Linked DNA regions of Homo sapiens. The protein of the gene in region 1 purifies or fractionates together with the protein of each later gene. This does not show direct contact. Each region holds a gene or a part of one and is shown on either strand. Other genes may lie near its edges. The genes, in order: HNRNPUL1, CEP135, ITM2B, RALY, SULF2, SERPINE2 and LYAR.

Region 1 (3,500 bases):
CACATTTTAAAATCTCTGAAATCAGGATCCATTTTACAATAAATGTGATGAGAAAGCACTGCGTATGCTGGGTGCGGCAGCTCACGCCTGTAATCCCAGCACTTTGGGAGGCCAAGGCAGGCAGATCACCTGAGCTCAGGAGTTCAAGCCCAGCCTGATCAACATGGAGAAACCCCATCTCTACTAAAAATACAAAAATTAGCCGGGCAGGGTGGCACATGCCTGTAATCCCAGCTACTGGGGAGGCTGAGGCAGGATAATTGCTTGAACCCGGGAGGCAGAGGTTGCAGTGAGCCGAGATCGCGCCACTGCACTCCAGCCTGGACAACAAGAGTGAAACTCCATCTCAAAAACAAAAAAACAAACAAACAAAAAAAGAAAACACTGCGTAGTTTATTTTGTTGCAGTGTTTCTCTATGAGAGGTACATAAAATAATGCACAACTTACATCAATGGTGTCGTGGTCAATAAAATATAACCCTCTGTGTTTCAGCTTCTACCTCTAAAAACTGGGGCTAACAGTACCTGTTTCCAGATGGTACTGTGAGGATTAATGGAGATAATCCATGTAAAGAGCTTGGTGCTGTATCTTGTGCATGCAAAGAGCTCTATACTTATTAGCTATCATCAGTAAGTTTGGATACACAAACCACAGGTAAGAAATTGTTAACACAGAAGTTCCCTCCAGGGAGTAGGATGGTAGGATGGGAACTGAGAGGACATGAGAATAACCTGTTTTGTTTTTTTTGTTTTTGTTTTTTTGTTTTTTTTTTTTGAGACAGAGTCTCACTCTGTCACCCAGGCTGGAGTGCAGTGGCGTGATCTCGGCTCACTGCAACCTCTGCCTCTTGGGTTCAAGCAATTCTCTGCCTCAGCCTCCTGAATAGCTAGGATTGCAGGCACCCGCCACCATGCCCGGCTAATTTTTTTGTATTTTTAGTAGACAGGGTTTCACCATCTTGGCCAGTTTGGTATTGAACTCCTGACCTTGTGATCCACCTGCCTTGGCCTCCCAAAAGTGCTGGGATTACAGGCAAAAGCCACCACACCTGGCGAGAATAACCTGTTTTATCCTGTACTTTTCTGTGCTGTCTGAACTTTTGTTAAACATGAGCATCTATTATTTTCATAAACATAACTTGACATGGAACTGTGGAGAGATGACAGCAGAGGCTGGCCTAAGCTGGCAGTTCTTTGCCCTGTTCTCCCTCTGGCCTCCCTTTAATAAGTGACATCTGAGTCTATTCTTTCTAGATCACTTTTCTTCCAAACAACTTCTTTTCTCAGTTCTACAAACATGTCATCACTACACTGGTTGACTACATAATACCTGGGTCAAATCTCACCAAGGAAATATCTGCTTGATGAAGCAATGCATGGTTGGCCTGCTTTTCTGATATGATATTTAGCAATGATGTAGTTGTCTTGAGTTCATCACAGTTTTGTCTGCTTGGACATGGTATTGCACAATCCAATCTCTTTTGCAGTTGCAGCTCTGACCAAGGTGGCTGGTATCAGGATATTACAATGGATGGACTTCTCTGTCCCTTCCCCTTCTCTTGCTCCTACTCACCTTCATCTCGAAGCATACACGGCCCCTTCTGACCCCATAGCTGGCACGGGCTCCTGACCACAGGTATGCAAAGCCCTCAATTGTGAGCGGATAGCCACTACTCCGATCTCGGGCCACCTTGAAGTGGAGGTCGCAGTTATCTGTGAAGGAAAATGCCCACAGTTGGCTGATGTTTTTATTTTGTTTTGTTTTCTTGAGACGGAGTTTCACTCTTTTTGCCCAGGCTGGAGTGCAATGGTGCGATCTTGGCTCACCGCAACCTCCGCCTCCCGGGTTCAAGTGATTCTCTTGCCTCAGCTTCCTGAGTAGCTGGGATTACAGGCATGCACCACCACACCTGACTAATTTTGTATTTTTTAGTAGAGATAGGGTTTCTCCATGTTGGCCAGGCTGGTCTCGAACTCCCGACCTCAGGTGATCCACCTGCCTCGGCCTCCCAAACTGCTGGGATTACAGGCGTGAGCCACCACGCCCGGCCTGGCTGATGTTTTAGAAGTCCTAAGAAAGAAGCAGGCAGAGGGAACTTCCCCAAGTGCTGACCAGGAGTACACAGTGAACACATCATGGGGGCAGTTTCAAAAGGAACCAGCACACCCCTCAACCTCTCTCCCTTTGAGTAGGGAGGATGTGCAGTATTGCAAATTGGCCTGTATGACCTCAGAGAGGAACTGGGGTTCTTTATCTGGTGGGATCCAAGGATGGGGCTTCAGGGGTATCCTCAGAAATTGTCAACACATGTCTTTGGTGGGGATGTGTATTTGCTAGGGATAGGGTCCATATCCTCAGCAGTTTCAAATTAATTTTTTTTTTTGAGACAAGGTCTCGCTTTGTCACCCAGGCTGGAGTACGGAGGCATGATCTCGGCTCACTGCAACTTCTGTTCTCCTGCGCTTAAGCCATCCTCCCACCGCAGCCTCCTGAACAGCTGGGACTACAGGGATATGCCACCATGCCAGGGTGATTTTTATATTTTTCGTAGACAGGGTTTCGCCATGTTACCCAGGCTCAAACTAGTTTTTAGAATACAAAAAGGTTAATCACCACCACCATATATTCCTACCGCCCTCTGTGGTAATTCTATCAATTTGGGAACCGGACTTCTGTTTCCAATAGCTATACAGGGATCTGACCCTGATCCACACCTGCCACCCAGGAACCAATGCCCAGGTGCCCCATAGGCTCCTAATTCCTTTCATGGGCCTAGGACTCTCCTACTGTTGCTCTTACCCTTCTCAATATTCTCAATATTCAAGGAGCCAGTCACGCCTCCAAGAAAGCCTTTCCTGACCATCCCTCCCATGAGGCGCTCTCCTTTCTCTAAAGGCTGACCGTCATGATCTGTACATTTGCATTTCATCTAGACGCTGCCTCATGAACCACTGCCACCCAACACTTTTTAAACAATGTTTACCTCTACTCTGGGTAGATGTTGTTTTCGAGAGCTTGTGATATTAGAGATTGTGTATATTTTTATCTCTTACTAAAGCATGTAGCCAGTGCTTTATAAACAGAAGCTTCTGTAGAAATAGATGAATAAATTGCTGCTTATCTTCTGCTCTGTTGAGAAGTGCAGTGTTCTCAGACCTGATTGGGCTTCTGGGTGCATGTAAAAATTTAGATTCATAGGCTCGACCACTTAGACTCTTGACTAGGAGGTCTGAGCGAAAGGACCTTTATAATAATTCCTCCAAATGCTCAGATGCACAGTGAAGGTGAAAGCCACTTATCCAGTGGAAAGAAAACTGAACTGGAGGACAGACAGCAGGGCGGGCCAGGTTAGTGCCTCACAGGACACAGTGGCATTGGTTTCACCAGGAACTTGAGCAGCTGATGGAAACGGGAACTGGTTGTCAAAGAGTTAAGTTTCCCCAGCTGCACTCAGATTCCCTTCCTGATTAGATGACAACCCCTGTGTGTACAGGGCGGT
Region 2 (3,500 bases), on another chromosome or scaffold:
AATCCTCCCACTTCGGCTTCCTGAGTAGCTGGGACTACAGGCACCCATCACCATGCCCCAGCTAATTTTCAAAAATTTTTTTGTAGAGATGGTGTTTTGCCATGTTGCTCACGCTGATTTCAAACTCGTGGGCTCAAGTAAATCCACCTGCCTTGGCCTCCCAAAGTGCTGGGATTGCAGGCATGAGCCACCAAGCCAGGCCTTTATGAAATCGTAAATATTGATTTCATAGCAAATTGTCACTATACTTCAAATAGCACATCACTACAAAGTTTTGACGTAAATAGGTAAGAATAACTCAAAAACTGATCTAACAAGCAATTTGGCCACTAATTGAGAATGAAATCTCAGGAATGCAGATGTCTATGGTATTAATATAGTAGGAAAGAGTAATGGAAGACAAGTAACTTGGCAACTGATTTTCAAGTTAGACTTCGATTTAAAGCAGGTCTCAATCCGGGTTAGTAACACCTGGGGATTAAATTTTTCAACGTAAAGCAAATGAACCAAAATATGAGTGAATATGAAAATTACCAAGCTGTAGGGAATACATTGAAGAGGTTAAGGGTACAGGTTTTAGAATTAAAATCTGTTTGGTTTCCTACCACTTACTATTTATGTGATCTCAGTTTCCTATAAGGTAGGCATAATAATAGATTGTTGGTGGGATTCATCAGACACTTATATAGTGTCTGGTCCACATTTGTTAACTGCTGTTACTATCTTCAAATCATTACCTTTATTATGATTTGTATGTGGAACATCCTACTTGAACCATACATTTTGGAGCTCTTATAGGGATTGTTGTTGCTTCTCTATACTCTTTGAAATACTTTTGGATTCTAATTTTGTCCTGCGGAATGCTATAGGAAATATTTATCCAATACTTCCTATTTTACCTTATTTTTCAGATTATTAAACAATTTTATTCAATAAATATTTATATAGCATCCGCTATGTAATACTTGCTATTTTAGTTACTGTAGAGCTATTATCTTCCCCAACACTTGTTGCCTTTTTTAAAAGGAAGAATTACCAAAGAAATGTACTTTATGTATTAGCTTTTTAAAAAGTTTGTTATTTGTAAAGCCATATTAAATACTTTCTGAAGTACAATAGAGAACACATAAAAACATTGTCAAATGTAAAAAAAATTTGTCTTACCGTTCGTATCTTTCAGTTGAGATCTGCCTTTTCAGAGCATCATAATCTGTTTGTAACTGTGCCACTTTAGCTCGAAGCATGGTGTTTTCCCGGCTTTGACTAGTTCTTAAAAACAAATTAAAAAATCAAGAAATAAACGTTCCGTTTTGTAGAGTCAGGTGCTGTGGGTTTTTTAAATTAATAAAGAGAAGATCAAGACCTTTCAACAAGAATTCTCTAAACTTCTAGAGCTTTTATCACATTTTCTTTTTCATTCATTTAGTTTATTTATGAAACATGTACTGAACATCTATTATGTGCTAAGCACTAAAGCAATGCTAGGGATACAAATTTGAACGAGACATAAATGGTAACACCAAGATGTAAAGTGTCTTCATTGGCTCTTTCTTGACTCTTGCCTTGGAAAGAGAAATATTAATATTTTTAATACCTTTCAAAAGCTCATTCTTCCATGTGTACTCTACTCTGGGTTTCTTTCCCTCTTCCTACAAATATGTCTAAATCCTTCTATTCTAAAAATATGACATAATCAGTCTCTCCCAAAGTAATCAATACATGTATGTGGGTCAAATCTCATAGCCTTTTTAGAGTCCTTTTTCCTAATCTACAGCATAAGACACAGCCACCTCTTCTTCTCCCGAGAACACTTTCTCCTTCACTGACTCCTCTGTCCATTCCTCAACTGTAGGCGCTTTCCTAACGTTTTCTCTTCTCATTACTCCCACGGTACAACCTCTGTAGTGAAGATATACAGGTCTGCACCTCCCAACACGATGTTTCTCCCGAGTCAGTCTCCTAAATTTCCAAAAGCAGCAGATGTATAAGCCAAATATTTTGGTTTTGGGACAGCGTCTCGCTCTGTCGCCCAGGATGGAGTGCAGTGGTGCAATCTCGGCTCACTGCAACCTCCACCTCCTGGGTTCAAGTGATTCTCACGCTTCAGCCTCCTGAGTAGCTGGGACTATAGGTGTGTGCCACCACGCCTGGCTTTTTTTTTTTGTATTTTTAGTATAGACGGGGTTTCGCCATCTTGCCCAGGCTAGTCTCAAACTCCTGAGCTCAGGCAATCTACCCGCCTTGGCCTCCCAAAGTGCTGGGATTACAGGTGTGAGCCACTGCACCTGGCCTATCTTTCATACTCTTAACCTTTCCTCCACTTCAAAAAAATTAAAAAACTATCCTTCACAAGCAATTGTCTTTGCATAAGTTGACTTAAGACACTTACAATTTGCTTTCAGAAAGGGTTAACTTCTCCTTAAGTAGCTGGATTTCTGTATCCTTCTCGTGGGAGGTTAAGTGAGAATGAAATTCTTTATCTCTGTTTGTAGCCAACAATGATTCGAGGTTTTTAACTGTATGTCTCTCATTTGAAAGTTGTTTTTTCAGTAGGTCTGACTCTGACTTTACATTTTCTAATTCCACCACAACCTACGTGAAAAACAAAGTAAGATTACTTCAGTACAATTTTAAACTTACTCTGAAAAAATTATTTATCTGACAATATAGCTCTGTGGAACTATTCACCTATCACTTGTTTCATTTTGGGTATGGGTTAAAGATTATGAACTGTTTCTTTAAGTATAAGAAAGACACTTTATTTTCAAAATAATCTTTGCTATTTTTACTATGGGCTTATTTGGCTATAGGATCTACTCAAATCCTCAAATAATTTTTAGTCATGGTACCTTATCAAGAGACGGTCATTAAGATAAAACCACAAGGGCAATGAGACCCTTCTGGTTGAATATGCTTACTCTGACTACATAATCAAGCCAGTATTATAGTTTCTCAGTACCTGAAAATAAAGATACTACTAGATGAGTGAAAATTGAAAACATCCATGTTTGAAAACAAACACTAGGTTATTTAAAGTAATGCCTCCATCTGGGAAAGGTAAATTCTAGCTAAATAGACTTGTTTAATTAAGATTTAAACACCTTGAGATTTTTATCGGGAAAAATATTCTACTTCGGAAGCACTGAACTGTTCAATCCTTCATTCAAGTCTTACTTTTTTTTTTTGAGACAAGGTCTCACTCTGTTGCCCAAGCTGGAGTGCAGTGGCACAATCTCTGCTTACTGCGGCCTCGACATCCTGGGCTCAAGTGAACCTTCCCTGCCTCAGCCTCCCGAGTAGCTGGGACTATAGGCACATGCCACATGCCTGACTAATTCTTTGTATTTTTTGTAGAGACGGGGTTTTGCCATGCTATCCAGGCTGGTTTCAAACTCCTGAGCTCAAGCAATCTGCCTGACTCGACTTCCCAAAGTGTTGGGATTACGGGTGTAAGCTATCGTACCTGGCCTCAAGTCTTACTTTTAAACAGAGAAAGAATG
Region 3 (3,500 bases), on another chromosome or scaffold:
TGCTGTACTCACCTAGGTATTTGTGGACTGTAGTTAACTAAAGGTAACTGAAACTCGAGAAGCACAACCTCAGATAAGAGGGACTACTGTATTTAATATGTTTACATTTCTGTTTATGTTTACATTTCCCCAATTTTTGTCCCAAGAATTTTTTGTTTTTTCAAATCAGGATTCAGAGATTCAGAAGTTCATGTATCACCTGTGATTTTTATGTCTCTCTGTAAGCTTGCCATTTTGAACACTCGAATATATTACTGAAGTTAGCTTTGCAAACATTTCGTGCCTGATAAATACATCTGATGGATGTTTATAAACCAGTTTGAAAATTTACTTATTTCAAGGAAATAAACTTCCAAAGCAAATAGTAAATAATAATAGTTAACACTTACTGAGCTCTTAGGAATCAAAATGTTGACATTATTTGATTTAAGTTATTCTTAAAAACCGTTCTATGAGACAGTCTTTCTCAACCAGCGTTTCTCATTTGAACCACAGAACACAAAATCATTTAAATGACTGTTTTTCTAATGTTCTAAGGATGGTAGTATTCAAGATACATATGAGAAAATTTAATCTTTACAAACAATGGACAGATAACCTTAGAGGGCATTTGAGCTTATAAGTGGGGAAGTTAAATTGCTTAATTATATAATAAGTATTTGCAGTTAATTTGAATAGGTATTATTACTTATTATAGAAATATACCCTCGATGAGCATTTTATTTACTGGTAGCAATATTTTTTCCTCTCCCATTCCCACTTCCAACTTTATCCAGCCAAATTCTGAATTTGTTGAAATGCAAGTGATTTATACATTCTAAAGCCAATTCATTTTAATGATACAAATTATTCTTAAAAATCCAGTTGCTGCCTGTTTTTGCAAGTATTACTGTAACTACACTGTATCTTTTTCTTCCCAGAAACTTACAGCCTATTTAGATCTTAACCTGGATAAGTGCTATGTGATCCCTCTGAACACTTCCATTGTTATGCCACCCAGAAACCTACTGGAGTTACTTATTAACATCAAGGTATAAGAATGTTGACTGTTTTTGATGAATGATGCCTTCATAGTGTTCTGGAATTCCCTGTTGAGAAATTAGCCCTATAGGAGCCCATTTTATCAGACTGTAGTTAAGAATTTTACAAAGAGGAACTAATACTCATGGTTTTTGTTTTTAATGTTTTATATCTTGAAATTGAAATAAATTTCTCAAATAATGTTTTAAGTTTTCCTAAAGAGCCAGGGAGTAAATATTAGCCAACTACTTAATTCTGGTGCCATAGACAATACGTAAAACAGATGAACATGACTATATTCCAAAAAAAATTCTACTTATAAAAACAAGCCGGGGGCGGTGGCTCATGCCTGTAATCCCAGGACTTTGGGAGACCTAGGTGGGAGGATTGCTTGAGGCCAGGAATTTGAGACCAGCCTGGACAACATAGTGAGAACATAAACAAACAGATGGTGGGTAGTAGTTTGGCAACCTGTTCCATACCATAATGTGTAAGAATTTTGTCTTGTTTCTCTAGTCTACTCAGTGTATGTTCTGAGATAGTCATGTCATGTATTCTTTTCTGAATGTAGGCTGGAACCTATTTGCCTCAGTCCTATCTGATTCATGAGCACATGGTTATTACTGATCGCATTGAAAACATTGATCACCTGGGTTTCTTTATTTATCGACTGTGTCATGACAAGGAAACTTACAAACTGCAACGCAGAGAAACTATTAAAGGTAATACTTTTTAAATATTAAAGTGTTGGGCAGAAAAGTTCATTGCATTAAACTAGATTTAGGTGAAGCCTAGTCATTGTTACCAATATACCTGCCATGAGTGAGGTAATATTGTGTCGTTATATAATATTTCCAGGTTTCTATAGAATTATCTTAATTCCATTTAGTAAGTCCACTCTTTTCAGGTGGAGAGAAAAGGTCAATGTGAAATGTCATTGCCTTGAGATGATGGTACCTCATTTTCCATCTAGTTAGTCACCCTGTCCAACTTCCCATCCTACCACTTTGGTTGAGCCATACTGAAAGGGTTTTTATTATCCAGAGGGTGTCTTGGGACCAGCTCTTCAGCTGTGTTTTCAGGGATCTGGATTCTAAGCAGGCTGTTTGCCTTTTGGATCATATTGGGAATAATCACTGTCAGGGTAGTTGGAAAGGAATTTGGGTGAAGAACTAAGAGCATTGATACAACTAATGTTGTAGCTTTGCCAAATCATTTAACTTTTATTTTCTCACCTGAAATATAAGAATTACAGTATCTCCCCATTTCCTTTTAAGAGCATTGTGAAAATAAAAAGAAAGTACATGTGGCAGCTGTGGAAAGTAAGAAGTGCCATTCAGATACACTGTGGTGTGATTTCTTTGGAATTGTGTCACCCAGTAAAAGTGCTTTCCTGGCTTTTTGCTAGCATTTTAAATAATACTGTTCTCTCATCTCCGGCGGTTGAGTCATCTGAAACCAGCTTGATTTCTTTTTTTTTTTTTTTTCCAACTTTTATTTTAGATTCAGGGGTACATGTGCAGGTTTGTTACAAAGGGTATATTATCTGATGTGAGGTTTGGGGTACAGATGATCCCATCACTCAGGTAGTGAGCAAAGTACCCAATAGGTAGTTTTTCTTTTCTTTTCTTTTTTTTATTATACTTTAAGTTCTGAGTTACATGTGTACAATATGCAGGTTTGTTACATAGGTATACAGGTGCCATGGTGGTTTGCTGCACCCATCAACCTGTCACCAAATTAGGTATTTCTCCTAATGTTATCCCTCCCCTAGGCCCCCACCTCCCGACAGGCCCCAGTGTGTGATGTTCCCCTCTCTGTGTCCATGTGTTCTTATTGTTCACCTCCCACTTATGAGTGAGAAGATGCAGTGTTTGGTTTTCTGATCTTGTGATAGTTTGCTGAGAATGATGGTTTCCAGCTTCATCCACGTCCCTGCAAAGGACATGAACTCATCCTTTTTTATGGCTGCATAAAATTCCATGGTGCATATGTGCCACATTTTCTTAATCCAGTCTATCTTTGATGGACATTTGGGTTGGTTCCAAGTTTGCTATTGTGAGTAGTGCCACAGTAAACGTACATGTGCATGTGTCTTTATAGCAGCATGATTTATAATCCTTTGTGTATATGCCCAGTAATGGGATTGCTGGGTCAAATGGTATTTCTGGTTCTAGATCCTTGAGGAATTGCCACACTCTCTTCCACAATGGTTGAACTAATTTACACTCCCACCAACAGTGTAAAAGCGTTCCCCAATAGGTAGTTTTTCAACCCTTACCTCCTCCCTCCCTCCCTCCCTTCCTTATAGTCCTCAGTATGTATCATTCCCATCTTTATGTCAGTGAGTTCCCAGTGTTTAGCTCCTATTTATAAGTGAGAGCATTGTAAGGTAGGTATTTGGTTTTCTGTTTCTGTGTTAATTCATTTATGATAATGGCCTCCAGCTGTATCCATACTGCTGCAAAGGACATGATTTC
Region 4 (3,500 bases), on another chromosome or scaffold:
TCCCAGCACTTTGGGAGGCGGAGGCGGGCGGATCACGAGGTCAGGAGATCGAGACCATCCCGGCTAAAACGGTGAAACCCTGTCTCTACTAAAAATACAAAAAATTAGCCAGGCGTAGTGGCGGGCGCCTGTAGTCCCAGCTACTTGGGAGGCTGAGGCAGGAGAATGGCGTGAACCCGGGAGGCGGAGCTTGCAGTGAGCCGAGATCCCGCCACTGCACTCCAGCCTGGGCGACAGAGCGAGACTCCGTCTCAAAAAAAAAAAAAAAAAAAAAAACTGTTTGGCATATTTACCAAAGGTAAACATATGCCTAACCTAGGACTTACAGTATGAGGTTAGAGAACACTTACTCACTGTTCCCGCTGAACAGTTCACCTCCAGTCTTTTGCTCCATCATTGCCCCTGTCCAGATGCTTTCATCACACTTTTTCCCAATCCCAGAGACCAGCTGAGATCACTCTCCCTGCTCCCTACAAAGAGATCGATCTCCCCTCTTAAGGAAAATTCTGCCACTTACCTATTACCACTGACAAATGACTGATGGATTCTTCACATATAAATTGTCTCATGTGATTTTACAACGTTCTAATTTGCTCCTCACAATACCATTGTGAGGAAGGCAAGATATGGAGTGTTAACCCCACTTCACAGATGAGAAAATGGAACTTCAAAGAGAGAGAAGATGACATCTCCAGTTTACATGGCCTTATTATTCCAGACCCCACAGGCAATGCTAAATTGTTGGAAGAAATCGGGAGCACAACACAGCATCCCAAGTAATATTTCTCTCTGAAGGGTAGGAAAGAGGGAAGAGCCCTTCAAAACCAGGAGAGCCTCAATGTGCCCACCATTTCCATTTACTAGGGCTCCTTGCTGCAAAGTGTTCAAAGGCGGCTGGCAGTGGCAATGGGCTTCACGAACTACAATATAAACACAATTATCAAATCACAGACTGATCAAATGCCAGAAACCACACCTCAGATAATTCCACCTGCATACAAAATAGAGCTATTTTATTTCAAAATAGAGCATAATAAAACTTAAAATAATTCAACATGAAACTTAATTTTCTTCATTTCTACATAAGAAGCGAGACAATACCAAATCTTCCTGAAGCCAGCCAGAGAACTGTGTGGGTGTCCAGATGCAGATATCTGGACACCTAAACCTGAAAGGAAATGTTGTCCCCTACTCTAATATTCTTGACTTTACACACTGGGTGTTGGACACCTTAGCAACAGAGGATAAATATCTGTAAAAAACAGAAGGGAGAGAAGGGAATGCCAAAAAAATAAAGTCTACACACTGGAAGTCAGATTATCAAACTGGTCTCCTTGTCTACTGATACAGCCACCAATTATGTTATTTTCCGTTTGAACCCTCAATCCAAATATATGAGCCAGGGCGGCAGGCTGGATTTGCTTTACTTATCTGTCTTCCTCTCAAGACTGAAAGTAATTTGTGGACAGGAATTATGTCTTGTTGGTTTTTATGTTTTCCATAAGAAGAACATATAGGAGGTACTCCAAATTCCTGGAACGAATGGTTGAGATTAGGGATGGAAGGCTGTTGGGACTCCCAAGCATAAATAATCATGCCACGGCAACTAAGTAACTTCCTCTGAACCCTAATTTTAGTAAGGGTTGATTTTAATTGGTGTAAGAATCAATTAGGGTGAATCTTTAAAGTCTGAAGAGAAGTTATTCTTGTGCTCAACTGATTCACGCACAGCCCTCATTATTACTTTGGCAGCAGCACCATTCCTCAGTACCACCTTACAGGTATCCGCAAAAACAAAATTCCAAAGCCTTAAATTAATGCTTCAGGTAAAAAGGAAACGACGTGGTCAGGCGCGGCTGCTCACGCCTGTAATCCCAGCACTTTGAGAGGCCGAGGTGGGCAGATCACCAGGTCAGGAGATCGAGACCATCCTGGCGAACACTGTGAAACCCCGTCTCTACTAAAAATACAAAAAAATTAGCCGGGCGTGGTGGTGGGCACCTGCAGTCCCAGCTACTCAGGAGGCTGAGGCAGGAGAATGGCATGAACCCGGGAGGCAGAGCTTGCAGTGAGCGGAGATCATGCCACTGCACTCCAGCCTGAGCAACAGAGCGAGACTCCGTCTCAAAAAAAAAGGAAACAACATTCGATTTCTCAGTATAGTGTGGTCATATCTCTTACCAAAAAAACCCAAATCTAGATAAATGAAGTTATGGAAATGACCCTTTTAAATCTACTGCTGGGCTTGCTTTCACTAACACAAAGAATTTCAAAGGAAACTAGACAAATAGATCAAGAGACACCATGTAAGCAGTACCGTTAACTAAGCTTATTAAAATCCTTAATAAAATAAACAGGAGACAGCTAAATACCAGATAAATGCCTCTGGAATGAAGAAAATCTGGCCAATAACATTAAGCTTCCAAACCTGGCATTCTAAAAGAGAATATTTACTTGGAATAAAGCAATGAGTCTTACCTTGACAAATAACAGAGCTATTCAGTCTCTACAGATGGCACTTCAAGGGCCAGGTAACCTCAGTAGAGGCATCTACTCCATAAGCTAAAGCTCTTAGGAAATGCAAGTTTCTGGTCTAGTGTTTTTCCATTATTACCATTGTGTGAAAATCTTAAAATGTTTTTTATTTTTCCTTTATTATGTGATTTTAAACAGTTTGCTACATATTTTAATGTAATTTTTTTATAGTCTTGGACTCCAAGTTTGTCCCATGAGGCTACAGCTCCAAGTTTATAATGGAACTCAGCATACAATTTGATAAATTCATCTCACAAGCAATTTTTCAGCAATCTGTCCACTCTAAAAAGCAATATCCATCTGTTTATATACTGAAAGGTATCTTTTGTGAACCCAGAATTTAACCCTCTGAGATACTCTCAATACTTTAGCAAAGCCCTTTCTCCTTCCAGAGATAAATTCTCAAGCCACTTCCACAAAACTGTAAAAAGGTAGAAATATCACTCAAGATTATCTAGTCCAATTCCCTTGTTTCACAGACAGGAAGACAGAGATCCCACAGAATATTAGATAATTACAATTAACATGGGTTTGGCAAGCAACAAAAGCCCACTGACTGCTATTTTCCCCAGTCAAACTCATTGGTGTGTTGGGAAGATAGCCAGATTTGCACTTTAGTTAGTAGAGCACTCCCTAGGAAACTCAAGTATGTACCCTCTAAGAAACCCAAGTATTCAGCCACAACCCCCTACCCCAACCCCAGAATAGAGAACAGGGGGCAGTGGATGTCTTAAATGGCTCTTCTGGAGATGGAGACTAGAGCCCAGGGACAATATCCCATCTTTCCTTCCTTCCTCCCAGGAGGTACAGGACATTGATTACCATGAAAGCCATTATGAAATGACAGAAGACACTAACACTGAGGAAATAAGGCAAGGCTGTGGAAACAAAAGATGACCAACATTAATACTTGGCCAGATACCTGCTTCTACTTATTCGTTCGAAGAGAGGGGAGAAGTGAGAGA
Region 5 (3,500 bases), on another chromosome or scaffold:
GTGCCCGATCAGGAAGGAGATTCCAACACAGGCTACCATGTGGATGAACCCGGAGAACATTATGCGAAGAGAAATAAGCCAGCCACAGAAGGACAAATACTGTACAATTCCACTTACATGAGGCCCCTAAAGCAGTCAAGCTCATAGAGAAGAAGAGTGGTTGCTGAGAACGGGTGGGAGAATGGGGTGACAGCAGGGTGGGAGAGCGGGGTGGGAGAACGGGGTGGGGGTGGGAGCGGGGTGGGAGAATGGGGAGATAACGTTGAATGGGGACAGTTGTAGTTTTGCAAGATGAAGAGTTCATTTAGCAGATAGGTTGCGTACTAGTGGGAATATAGTTGACACTACTGGATACTTAAAAATGGTTAAGATGATAAATTTTATGGGAATTTCACCATAATTTTTTTTAAAAACAACACCTAAAATCTCTCATTAGGCTTTGGCTGTCCTTAGGCCAGAGAAATGGGCTACGTGGGAAGCTGCCCAGCCTTGGAGGGCACACTTCTAGCCGGCGGACCCCGACGCCTCCACACATTTTCAGGGCACAGGCTCATTCTTGTTTTAAAGTCATGCAGGGACCATTCTTCCTGTTTGATGGTGGGAGCTGAGCCTCAGAATGGTGAAGCGATGGCCCAGGGTGGCGGCTGAGCCTTCTGGCTGGGTCTAGAAGAGTCCCTCTCTCCACTTCGCCTGCTCCCTGGCTTCTGTCTGACTGTCCTCTCCTCGGCCCTTGCCGAGAATGAGGTGTGAAGGTGTAGACACTTCTTCAGCTGAGTGAGGCTTTTCCCCACTCAACTATAGTCTATTTTTGTTCTTCAGGGTAGTTTATTTTTTATTTTTTTTGAGACCGAGTCTCACTCTGTCGCCCAGGCTGGAGCACAATGGCGTGATCTCAGCTATCTGCAACCTCTGCTCCCGGGTTCAAGCGACTCTGCTGCCACACCACACGCCCAACTAATTTTTTGTATTTTTAGTAGAGATGGGGTTTCACCATGTTGGCCAGGCTGGTCTTGAACTCCTGACCTCAAGTGATCTGTCCACCTCGGCCTCTCAAAGTGCTGGGATTACAGGTGTGAGCCACCGCGCCCAGCCCAGGGTAGTTCTATAAACTCACCACAAACACTGACTAATTGAACGCTGAAACATGGCTCCTAGGGGAAGCACAGAGCTGGGTTCCTGTGAACCTCTGGTCCTAGCATTTTCACCAGCCAATCAATACAGAACCTTGTATGTGTGTTTCTTCCTTTTTTTTGAGATGGATCTCGCTCTGTTGCCCAGGCTGGAGTGCAGTGGCACAATCTCGGGTCACTGCAGCCTCTGCCTCCTGGGTTCAAGCGATTCTCATGCCTCAGCCTCCCAAGTAGCTGGGATTACAAGCGTGAGCCACCACATCTGGCTAATTGTTGTATTTTTAGACGGGGTTTTACCATGTTGGCCAGGCTGGTCTGGAGCTCCTGACCTCAGGTGATCTGCCTGCCTCGGACTCCCAAAGTACTGGGATTACAGGCGTGAGCCATTGCGCCTGGCCTTATCTGTTTATTACTACTGCTCCCCACTAGAATGGGTGGCTCGTGAGGAGATGTGGCTGTGTCCCCAGCCCCTAGATCACCACCTGGCAAAGTGACAGTCTCTGTGGAACTGTCGGAGTGAATGAATGGGGCCCCCCAGGCATGGTCTCTCTCCTCCTGTCCCACTCAGCCAGGTTGTGACACTTACTCTTCTTGAAGAGTTTTTTCCGGCGTCCGGCCAGGCTGAGCTTGTAGTCCCCGCTGTCACAGGTGCAGGCCTCGCTGCCCTGCCCGTAGTACTTGGGCACGAGGTTGGAGAGGGCTCTGCTGCCGCCCAGCCGCATGGGGCCCTTGCACTTATGCAGCTTCAGCTTCCCCGTGGCGTCCTCCACACACTGCCACTTCTGAAAGACATGCCAGGGCCTCGGCCAGCTGCTCATCTGCTCCCCTAAACCCGCCTCTCCCCTGCCACCCCCATCCACCCTGGAGACATCCCTCTCCCTGCTTGCATCCAGCTGTTACCGAGCCCCACCTCTGCTATCTCCAATGCCGCTTCTCTCCACTGCCACTGCTTGAACCTTGGGCAGAGCTACCATCATCCCCCAGCGAGATGCCTCCGACAGCCACCACTCTCACGGTTACCTGCTTCTGTCTGCTCCTAAAATCCACCCACATGGCAGCTAGAGGAATCTTTTTAAAGGGCAAGTTGGATCATATTACTCTCCTACTTAAAACCCTTCAATGGCTCCCACTGTCTTTAAGACAAGACCCAAGCTCCTGATACTAGTCTTTGAACATCCTCTGCAATCTGGCCCTGGCCTACCCATCGGTCCTCCTCTCCCTCAGCCCTCTCTCCAGTATCCCCTGTGGGCTGCTGCCCCAGGGACTTGGCGCTCACTGTTCCTTCTGCCTAGAATGCCTTTTCTCCAGCCCTTCCTGCTGCTGGAGGCTTCTCTTCCTTCCCGTCTGCTCCAGCGCAAGGAGGTCTCCCCTGACCACCTTCCCAGACTCAATCAGTGCAGTGTGTGCAGAGGCTCCACGTGTGCACTCAACTCCAGGCCTGTGGTCAGACGCTGAATGTAGATAGAATCACTGTCCAAATCTCTCGTGTTGATCCTTCTGCTCTTCCCCAGTTCCAGCCTCCTGGATCCCCTCACGGGATTCTGCAACCACCTGTAAACTGGATTCTCTTCCCTTCTGTCCACAGCTGCTCCAGCCCATTGACCCAGTGACTCTTTAGGGCCTATTCTGTGCCAAAGTGACCTTTCCAGGCCATGGGTCAGATCTGTTCCCTGTGTCTCTCCAGCACTTAGCATGTGCCAAGCACTGTGTGTTAATATATTAACTTGCTTACTACACCTCACGCTACCCTACGAGGCAGGTGCTGTCATTACTGTGCCGATTCAAGATGAGGCACACGGAGGTAGAGAGATGTGTCCTGGGTCACACAACTGGGAGGTGCAAGAGCTGTAAGGAAAAGTGTGGAGTCTGGTGCCACCATCCCCCCCAACCCTCTGCTGCACCGTCTGCCCCCGCCCGCTGCCGTTGAAGGCCCTGGTGCCTTTCACCTGCTCATCTTGCCCCTGTCCCGCCCATCTGTTCTCACCTGGAGGCTGAATCTAATTGCATTCACAGCGCCCTGCCACCCTCCCATCCCCTTCAATGCATGCAGGCCCTTCCAGCAACCTGGATTCCTTAGTGCAGAAGTAGACTGATGGGCCAGCAGGCATGGCCCTGAATGAGGCCAGCCCAGAAGCGCCTGGGGGACCTGGGGAGGCTAAAGTGGGCACTGTGACCGGCTATACCCATCTGACTGTCGCCAGAGGGGAGCACAGGCCCAGAAGCCCAGGTCTGATTTTTCAAGAAAAGCCAGGGCTCTGAGTTCTGCGTGAAGCCCTGAGCTGTGTGCGCTGGCGAGCAGCCTCCTGTCCACTTAGCTCTCTCTGCCTGGAATTCTCCTTCCCCACTGCCTGCTCCCCGCTCCAACCCAAC
Region 6 (2,871 bases), on another chromosome or scaffold:
CAAAGTGTCTGCAACTATTGACATTAGGGAAATGGACTATGGGCACCACTGTTGGATATAATGAAGAGTGCAATATACCTTTTGAAATTCTAACAGAGAGGGCATGATGGAAGAGGAGAGTCACTTACCTGTAGGATTATGTCGGATGAAAAACAGAAAAGGTCTGTCTACTATAAACCAGGGAGGCGATGATCTTGCAATGAGAATTGCAGCTACGGGAAGAAAAGGAAAATGTGTTGTGCACATTACATGAGACCATGTAAGCATAAGGCCAGCAAGTTAGCTAGCTTCATGGACCCTCAGAGGCTGGTGTCTGAAGACACACTTCATGCTTGTTCCATAGGCTGGCCATGTTACAACAGGCTCAATGGTCACCATTTACTAAGCCTACCTTGGGCCAGGCCCTTTACATTACTCTCTCATGTCTTCTACACAAGCACCATCTCTGATAAACATACTTACTCCTCATAGAGTTTTGATGAGAATTAAATGACATAATTAAATGACATAAGATATATTATAGCTCTTAGAACAGTGTTTGCCACTAAACACATCTAATGCATATTTATTGTTATTAGCTATTTTTTATTCACACCATCTGCTTTGCTGATAAAGCCCCCAGTCCTTTTTTTTGGGGATGGAGTCTCACTCTGTCACCCAGGCTGGAGTGCAGTGGCGCGATCTTGGCTCACTGCAACCTTTGCCTCCCGGGTTCAAGCGATTCTCCTGCCTCAGCCTCCTGAGTAGCTGGGATTACAGGCATGCACCACCACGCCTGGCTAATTTTTGTATTTTTAGAGACAGGGTTTCACTATGTTGGTCACGCTGGTTTTGAACTCCTGACCTCAAGTGATCCACCTGCCTCAGCCTCCCAAAGTGCGGGCATTACAGGCATGAGCCACCGCGCCCGACCCCTGGTCCTGTTTAGCTTCTCTAAATCTTTTCTGTATATAAAGGCCCAGTCCAATTCTTAGCTTTTGTGTCTGTGCCTTCTCCTTTGGCACATTATTTAGGTTTCCTCTGCACTGGAATGTAGACCACTCATCCGGGACCTACTACCTTATACTGCTGTTCCACTCACCAGGTGTAGGCATCTGACTTGGAAAGCAAACTTCTTTAGCCTCATGGGTCTTGGCCATTCCTCGTCTGCCAGGCTTGTTTCCATTTAATAAGCCTGAACCAGGGCCTCACGGGAGGGTAGGTGTGTGGCATTACTACCACATGCCTGTTGCAATAGCTCAGTCCTCTTGCTCAAACCCCATGAAGTATTGAACACTTGGGCTTGATGTTATAAAGGAAACAGCTGCAGTTATGCTGGGGCAAGCCCTTTTACCCAGGGTTATTAAAAACAAATATTAAATAGCAGGTGTTATGGACTGAAATGTGTCTCCCCCCAAATTCATATGCTGAAGCCCCAAACCCCTAACGTAACTGTATTTGGAGATAATGCCTTTGAGGAGGTAATGAAGGTTAAGTAGGGTTCTATTCTAATAGGACCGTTGCCCTTATTTGAAGTGGGAGAGACACCAGGGATGTGTCACATGGAGAAAAGACCATGTGAGGACACAGGGAGGGGGCGACCTCCGGAGATCCAGAGATCTCAGGAGAAACAAACCTGCCAACACCAACACCTTGATCTTGAACTCGCAGCCTCCAGAAGTGTGAGTTCTGTTGTTTAAACCACTCAGTCAACGGTATTTTGTCATGGCAGCCCAGGCGGACTAAGACAGGAGGACCTGGGCGGTTACATGGGGCCCTGCACTGGGTTTAATACTCTGCTGTTGCTATCTTGAAATTCTTATACATTTTGAACAAGGGGCTCCATATTTTCATTTGGCACAGGACCCCACAAACTATGTAGCTGGTCCTGATAGTTACACTCAGCAAAACTGGTCAATAACTTTTAGATGTTACTTAAAATTACCTAGAAAAGACAAAAAGCATCTTAAAATTTCCAACCCTCTTATTTCAGGGTCTTTGTTTTAAATGCTTCTTTAAAGGAATTTTTAAAACGTTTATTCGAGAAAGGCAATAACACATCTATTGTGAGTATAACTGGTATGTTTCAATGACCAGAGATATTTGACCCAGCTGCAAGTGTAGCTAAGATTTTCACTTTATGGGCTCACAGAGTTGGCCAAATCTATTCATCTATTTTCCTACGGATAATGAGGGGTGAAAAAACTGACTTACGATTGTTCTGTTTTCTCCTTCATTATGTAAACCACTGAGGAGGAAGCAGATGTGGATGTTCTAATTATCAAGGAAGGCTGTACAGCAATCCTGCCGCAATTCAACAGATGCTGGCGAATTCTTCGGTTTATCCTGGATAGACCTGATTGCCTATTTTCCTTTAAGTACTTGTTGTTTATTTTATGTTCAAATCTGAAGATTGGTCTTTTTTGCCAGTAAGAAGCCAGAACATGTTTTATCCTCCTGAGAGCAGGGGTCAGCAAACTATTTTCCTCAAGGCAAGTCTACCAGGACAAATCCTGTTTTTATAAATAAAGTTTTATTGGAACACAGCCACATCTGTTTACTTGTATTGTTGATTGCTGTTTTCATGCTACAGTGAAAGAGCTAAGAAGCTGTAATGGAGATGGTATGACACACAAATCTGAAATACATACTACCTGGCTCTTTATAGAAGTTTGCTGACTCCTGTCCTAGAGGAATTTCTCTCACTGAAATGCTTTTCTTTAATGAAACAGATTCTGAGCTTTGTGGTTACAGGTCTTCAGTCTGTCTGTACTCACTGCTGTCTCCTGAGGGTTAACCCACACACACTGCCTGGCTGGAAAGAGGGTGCATTACATATTTGCTCAACCAATGAGTATACAGGAATGTGTTTGCTCCCCTGCTAGAGGAAGC
Region 7 (3,500 bases), on another chromosome or scaffold:
ATTCACAGTTTCTGCAAACAGACACATGCTTTTCCACTTGTATTTTCTTCACTGATTCACCACATGCATTGCATGTAAAAAATACCATTTTTAGGTAAATGGCTAAATATTCTCTATCCAAGACAGGTTTTAAGTCTTGTCCTAAGGAAAAAAAGACAATTATAATTATAAACTGAAACTTCTCATTTCAATAAATGGCTCATGCCCCTAACTTTTCAACCATAATTTCACATGAAAATAACAGAGTCAAAGTTGATTAGCAATCTACATAAAATTCCACCATTCATATAAGTAAAACTAACATTAACAATGAGAATGGCTAACATTTATTGTGTCCTTACCACGTGCCAGGCACTATTCTAGAGGCTTTACATTTATTCACTTATTCAATCCCCGCAGTAACCCTATGAGGGAAGGACTATTATTGTTCAAAATTTATATGAGGTAACTGAGACACAGAGATTACATAACTTGCCCAAGGATACACGGTTAACAGAACCAGGATTTAAACCTGGCAGATTGGCTCTCAAGATGAAGAGCTTTGAGGGTGTTAAATCTTACTTTCCATAATACCTTAAACTCTCTCTCTGTATATGAAACTTATAGAAGGCATTGCAATTTAGGTGTACACTACAAACTATTTCAGGTCCTCAAATATACTAAGAACACAGCAAGAGGAAAACTGAGTGAAGTTTAGAAAGTGAAGAAGAGGCAATTCTATGGGCACAATTTCTATGGCACTAAAAGCATTCATATCAATATTACTATATATCTACAAAGGTTAAAATGAGGACATGCGCCTCAGCTGTAATGGACAGGGGCCTTCTTCATGTGGCAGCTTGTCAGACAAGTCAGAAAGAAACGGAACCAAGTCCAGGTGTCCCAACTGCTGGGTGCTGAATTACTGGAGTTCACAAACCCAGGTGTCCCGAGCACTGCCCCAAAAAGAAGTATGTCTGCACACGCACATAAACATCATTGTAAAATTTCACAGAAATGCTACCGTGCTCAGGAAAACACAAATTCGTCTAGAAGTGTTAGAGAAGTCACAGTAATTTTCCATACTTACATAATTTTTAATCACTAGATTTTAAAACAGCATTGTTGTTTTACATTATAAGTTTTACAGCAAAAATACTGAGAACTGTTTAACCCAGAGCTTTCTTCCTCATTAGGAAAATAAAGGTGAGGGTCAAGTAAACCGATGCAATTTACTTCAGGGTAGGACTTCATCCAACAAGCTTTCAGTACAAATGATCTACCCTTGGTTTGCAGAGAATTCCCATGCATGAAATCACCGTTGCTCCTCCACCAGCATGTTTTGGATCACTGCCAGTGAGGCCACACCCAAGCAACGACCAAGGTTATTCATGTCCATTCAGCCTTGAATGGAAATGTACATCCTGGCTGCATCTCCAGGGTTCACAAAGGTCCAGCTGGTCTCTTGTGGAGGCCTCTTGCCCTGTGGGACACTATCAGACATCAGCTCAGCTTCTACGCTACATACAAACCACAGACCCCTGATTCCGCGGTCCCAGGCCCCGCTCCTCAGCTCACTATCAGTGTATGTTAGTAAACGGACAGCATGTGGTCAGCTACAACCTAGCACCAAATCCTCAGGAAGGAAAACATGACTACCCTCGATGTGCTGCAGCAACTGTCATCTTCTCATCTGCTTACTGTAAAGATGTGTGATATTGTCAAGCTCCTGGGAGCTGGAATCACGTTTCCCACAACCCAGCTCCCTCAAAGCTTACCATTCTAAAAAAAGGCAGAGGGATGATCAACATGTCAGGCAACAAGAGCAGCTATCCTGCCTGACAAGGGAGAACAAAGGCTGGAATAAGAGCCAACATCACATTCTCAAAGAGCATGGAGGTGCACTTTGGTGTAAGAGCAGGAATAACTTATTAGTCACCAAGAAATAGATTGTCATCACAGGCACAAGGTGAAAGCAGCCGTGATATGCCAAATTATCTGCTGAAAAACGTTAAAGCACTTTTCTAATAAGATACAACAACAAAAAACAGTCTCTGAAACTTAGATACGGCTTAGAGCTTGCCAACCTCTGTTGCTGAGGACAATTCTATTTCTGGATGGAGTGGGAGATGGGAGGAAGAAAGGTTTCGACAAGGCTTAAGAGTGAATTGAGAGATTCCTGTCCCAGCAGGAATTAAAGGCCTAGGAAGGAAGCTGGAAACAAAATATATTGACTGAAAGAAGCAGTGAAAGCAGTGATGTTGACAAAAAGATACTCAAGAGTAACTGTGCCAAACATTCTATCTCTCTGGAGATCGGCTACACACTACAGTGTAATTAAATATCAATTCAGAAGGTGATTAGAATCTGGTTACATGTCCAGCTAAAAAATAACTCTCACATCATTTTCATTTGGTCTTTACTTGTTTAAGGCCAAATGGGTGGATTGCACAGGAAGTCAGAACTGTCTCTTCCTGCCTTCCTCCGGATTTTTACACTTGCCATGAAATGGGAACAGCTCTGTGTCCACTTGCTTGGCTAATGAGCTAATGTCTGTAAGGAGCTTACCTCTCCTTTATTCAGAGCCTGGAGGACAGTCCAGCACCTTGATTACACCTCAAACCCAACCTAGCCCCAGGCGAAAATACCTGTAATTTATGCCATAAACACTTGCTTGGGCTTCAAAGAAAAGCTCAAAACCATCAGAAGCTTCAAAGTCAGCCTAACTGCACAGCAGACAGGGTGTCCCAGGTCTTAGTGCAGGCTTAATATTCGTAAGCGTAAATGCTACAAACTTACAAAAAGCCGTCAGGTGGAAATTCAGTCCCTCTAATGGAAGACAGCAAACATTGCCTAAAACAAAAATGTAAATACTACAAACTTACAAAAAGCCGTCATGTAGAAATTCAGTCACTCCAATGGAAGACAGCAAACATTGCCTAAAACAAAAAAGTAAAACGGTATTGTTCAAATTCCACAAGACTAGATAAGCATGAAGGAAATTTAATTAAACTTTTTTTTTTTTTTTTTGAGAAAGGAGTCTCGCTTTGTCGCCCAGGCTGGAGTGCAGTGGTGCATTCTTGGCTCACTGCAAGCTCCGCCTCCCGGGTTCATGCCATTCTCTTGCCTCAGCCTCCCGAGTAGCTGGGATTACAGGCATCCGCCACCACGCCCAGCTTATTTTTTGTATTTTTTAGTAGAGATAGATGGGGTTTCACCGTGTTAGCCAGGATGGTCTCAATCTCCTGACCTCGTGATCCGCCTGCCTCGGCCTCCCAAAGTGCTGGGATTACAGGCGTGAGCCACCGCGCCCGGCCTTAATTAAATTTTAAATGATGTTTTGGCAAGTTTGGATCATTTATGCTTCTGAAATTATGAAAGCTTAAAACTGCATTAAGATTTTGAGGACACCCAGTCTGCCGGGCTCAGATGTGACAGATTTCAACATCTAGCCCTAAGTGTAAAAAGACAGCAGTTTTTTCATGGGGCTGGATCTAAATAGAGTCCTCTTTTCCTTCCCT

Evidence for each region.
Region 2: the proteins of HNRNPUL1 (region 1) and CEP135 purify together in Homo sapiens (co-immunoprecipitation; one large-scale study listed by IntAct). This does not show direct contact.
Region 3: the proteins of HNRNPUL1 (region 1) and ITM2B purify together in Homo sapiens (co-immunoprecipitation; one large-scale study listed by IntAct). This does not show direct contact.
Region 4: the proteins of HNRNPUL1 (region 1) and RALY fractionate together in Homo sapiens (co-fractionation; one large-scale study listed by BioGRID). This does not show direct contact.
Region 5: the proteins of HNRNPUL1 (region 1) and SULF2 purify together in Homo sapiens (co-immunoprecipitation; one large-scale study listed by IntAct). This does not show direct contact.
Region 6: the proteins of HNRNPUL1 (region 1) and SERPINE2 fractionate together in Homo sapiens (co-fractionation; one large-scale study listed by BioGRID). This does not show direct contact.
Region 7: the proteins of HNRNPUL1 (region 1) and LYAR purify together in Homo sapiens (co-immunoprecipitation; one large-scale study listed by IntAct). This does not show direct contact.

Annotation. Positions count from the first base shown.
Region 1 is NC_000019.10:41,274,372-41,277,871, reverse strand, and holds part of HNRNPUL1 (heterogeneous nuclear ribonucleoprotein U-like protein 1), read right to left. Parts: intron 1,714-3,500; coding exon 1,574-1,713; intron 1-1,573.
Region 2 is NC_000004.12:56,018,445-56,021,944, reverse strand, and holds part of CEP135 (centrosomal protein of 135 kDa), read right to left. Parts: intron 2,593-3,500; coding exon 2,390-2,592; intron 1,270-2,389; coding exon 1,165-1,269; intron 1-1,164. UniProt on the Homo sapiens protein: Centrosomal microtubule-binding protein involved in centriole biogenesis. Acts as a scaffolding protein during early centriole biogenesis.
Region 3 is NC_000013.11:48,257,206-48,260,705, forward strand, and holds part of ITM2B (integral membrane protein 2B), read left to right. Parts: intron 1-920; coding exon 921-1,031; intron 1,032-1,591; coding exon 1,592-1,742; intron 1,743-3,500. UniProt on the Homo sapiens protein: Plays a regulatory role in the processing of the amyloid-beta A4 precursor protein (APP) and acts as an inhibitor of the amyloid-beta peptide aggregation and fibrils deposition. Plays a role in the induction of neurite outgrowth.
Region 4 is NC_000020.11:34,000,411-34,003,910, reverse strand, and holds part of RALY (RNA-binding protein Raly), read right to left. Parts: intron 1-3,500. UniProt on the Homo sapiens protein: RNA-binding protein that acts as a transcriptional cofactor for cholesterol biosynthetic genes in the liver. Binds the lipid-responsive non-coding RNA LeXis and is required for LeXis-mediated effect on cholesterogenesis.
Region 5 is NC_000020.11:47,670,482-47,673,981, forward strand, and holds part of SULF2 (extracellular sulfatase Sulf-2 isoform a precursor), read right to left. Parts: intron 1,913-3,500; coding exon 1,717-1,912; intron 1-1,716. UniProt on the Homo sapiens protein: Exhibits arylsulfatase activity and highly specific endoglucosamine-6-sulfatase activity. It can remove sulfate from the C-6 position of glucosamine within specific subregions of intact heparin.
Region 6 is NC_000002.12:223,977,416-223,980,286, forward strand, and holds part of SERPINE2 (glia-derived nexin isoform b precursor), read right to left. Parts: intron 213-2,871; coding exon 129-212; intron 1-128. UniProt on the Homo sapiens protein: Serine protease inhibitor with activity toward thrombin, trypsin, and urokinase. Promotes neurite extension by inhibiting thrombin. Binds heparin.
Region 7 is NC_000004.12:4,283,655-4,287,154, forward strand, and holds part of LYAR (cell growth-regulating nucleolar protein), read right to left. Parts: intron 2,919-3,500; 5' UTR 2,865-2,918; intron 142-2,864; 5' UTR 89-141; coding exon 1-88. UniProt on the Homo sapiens protein: Plays a role in the maintenance of the appropriate processing of 47S/45S pre-rRNA to 32S/30S pre-rRNAs and their subsequent processing to produce 18S and 28S rRNAs. Also acts at the level of transcription regulation.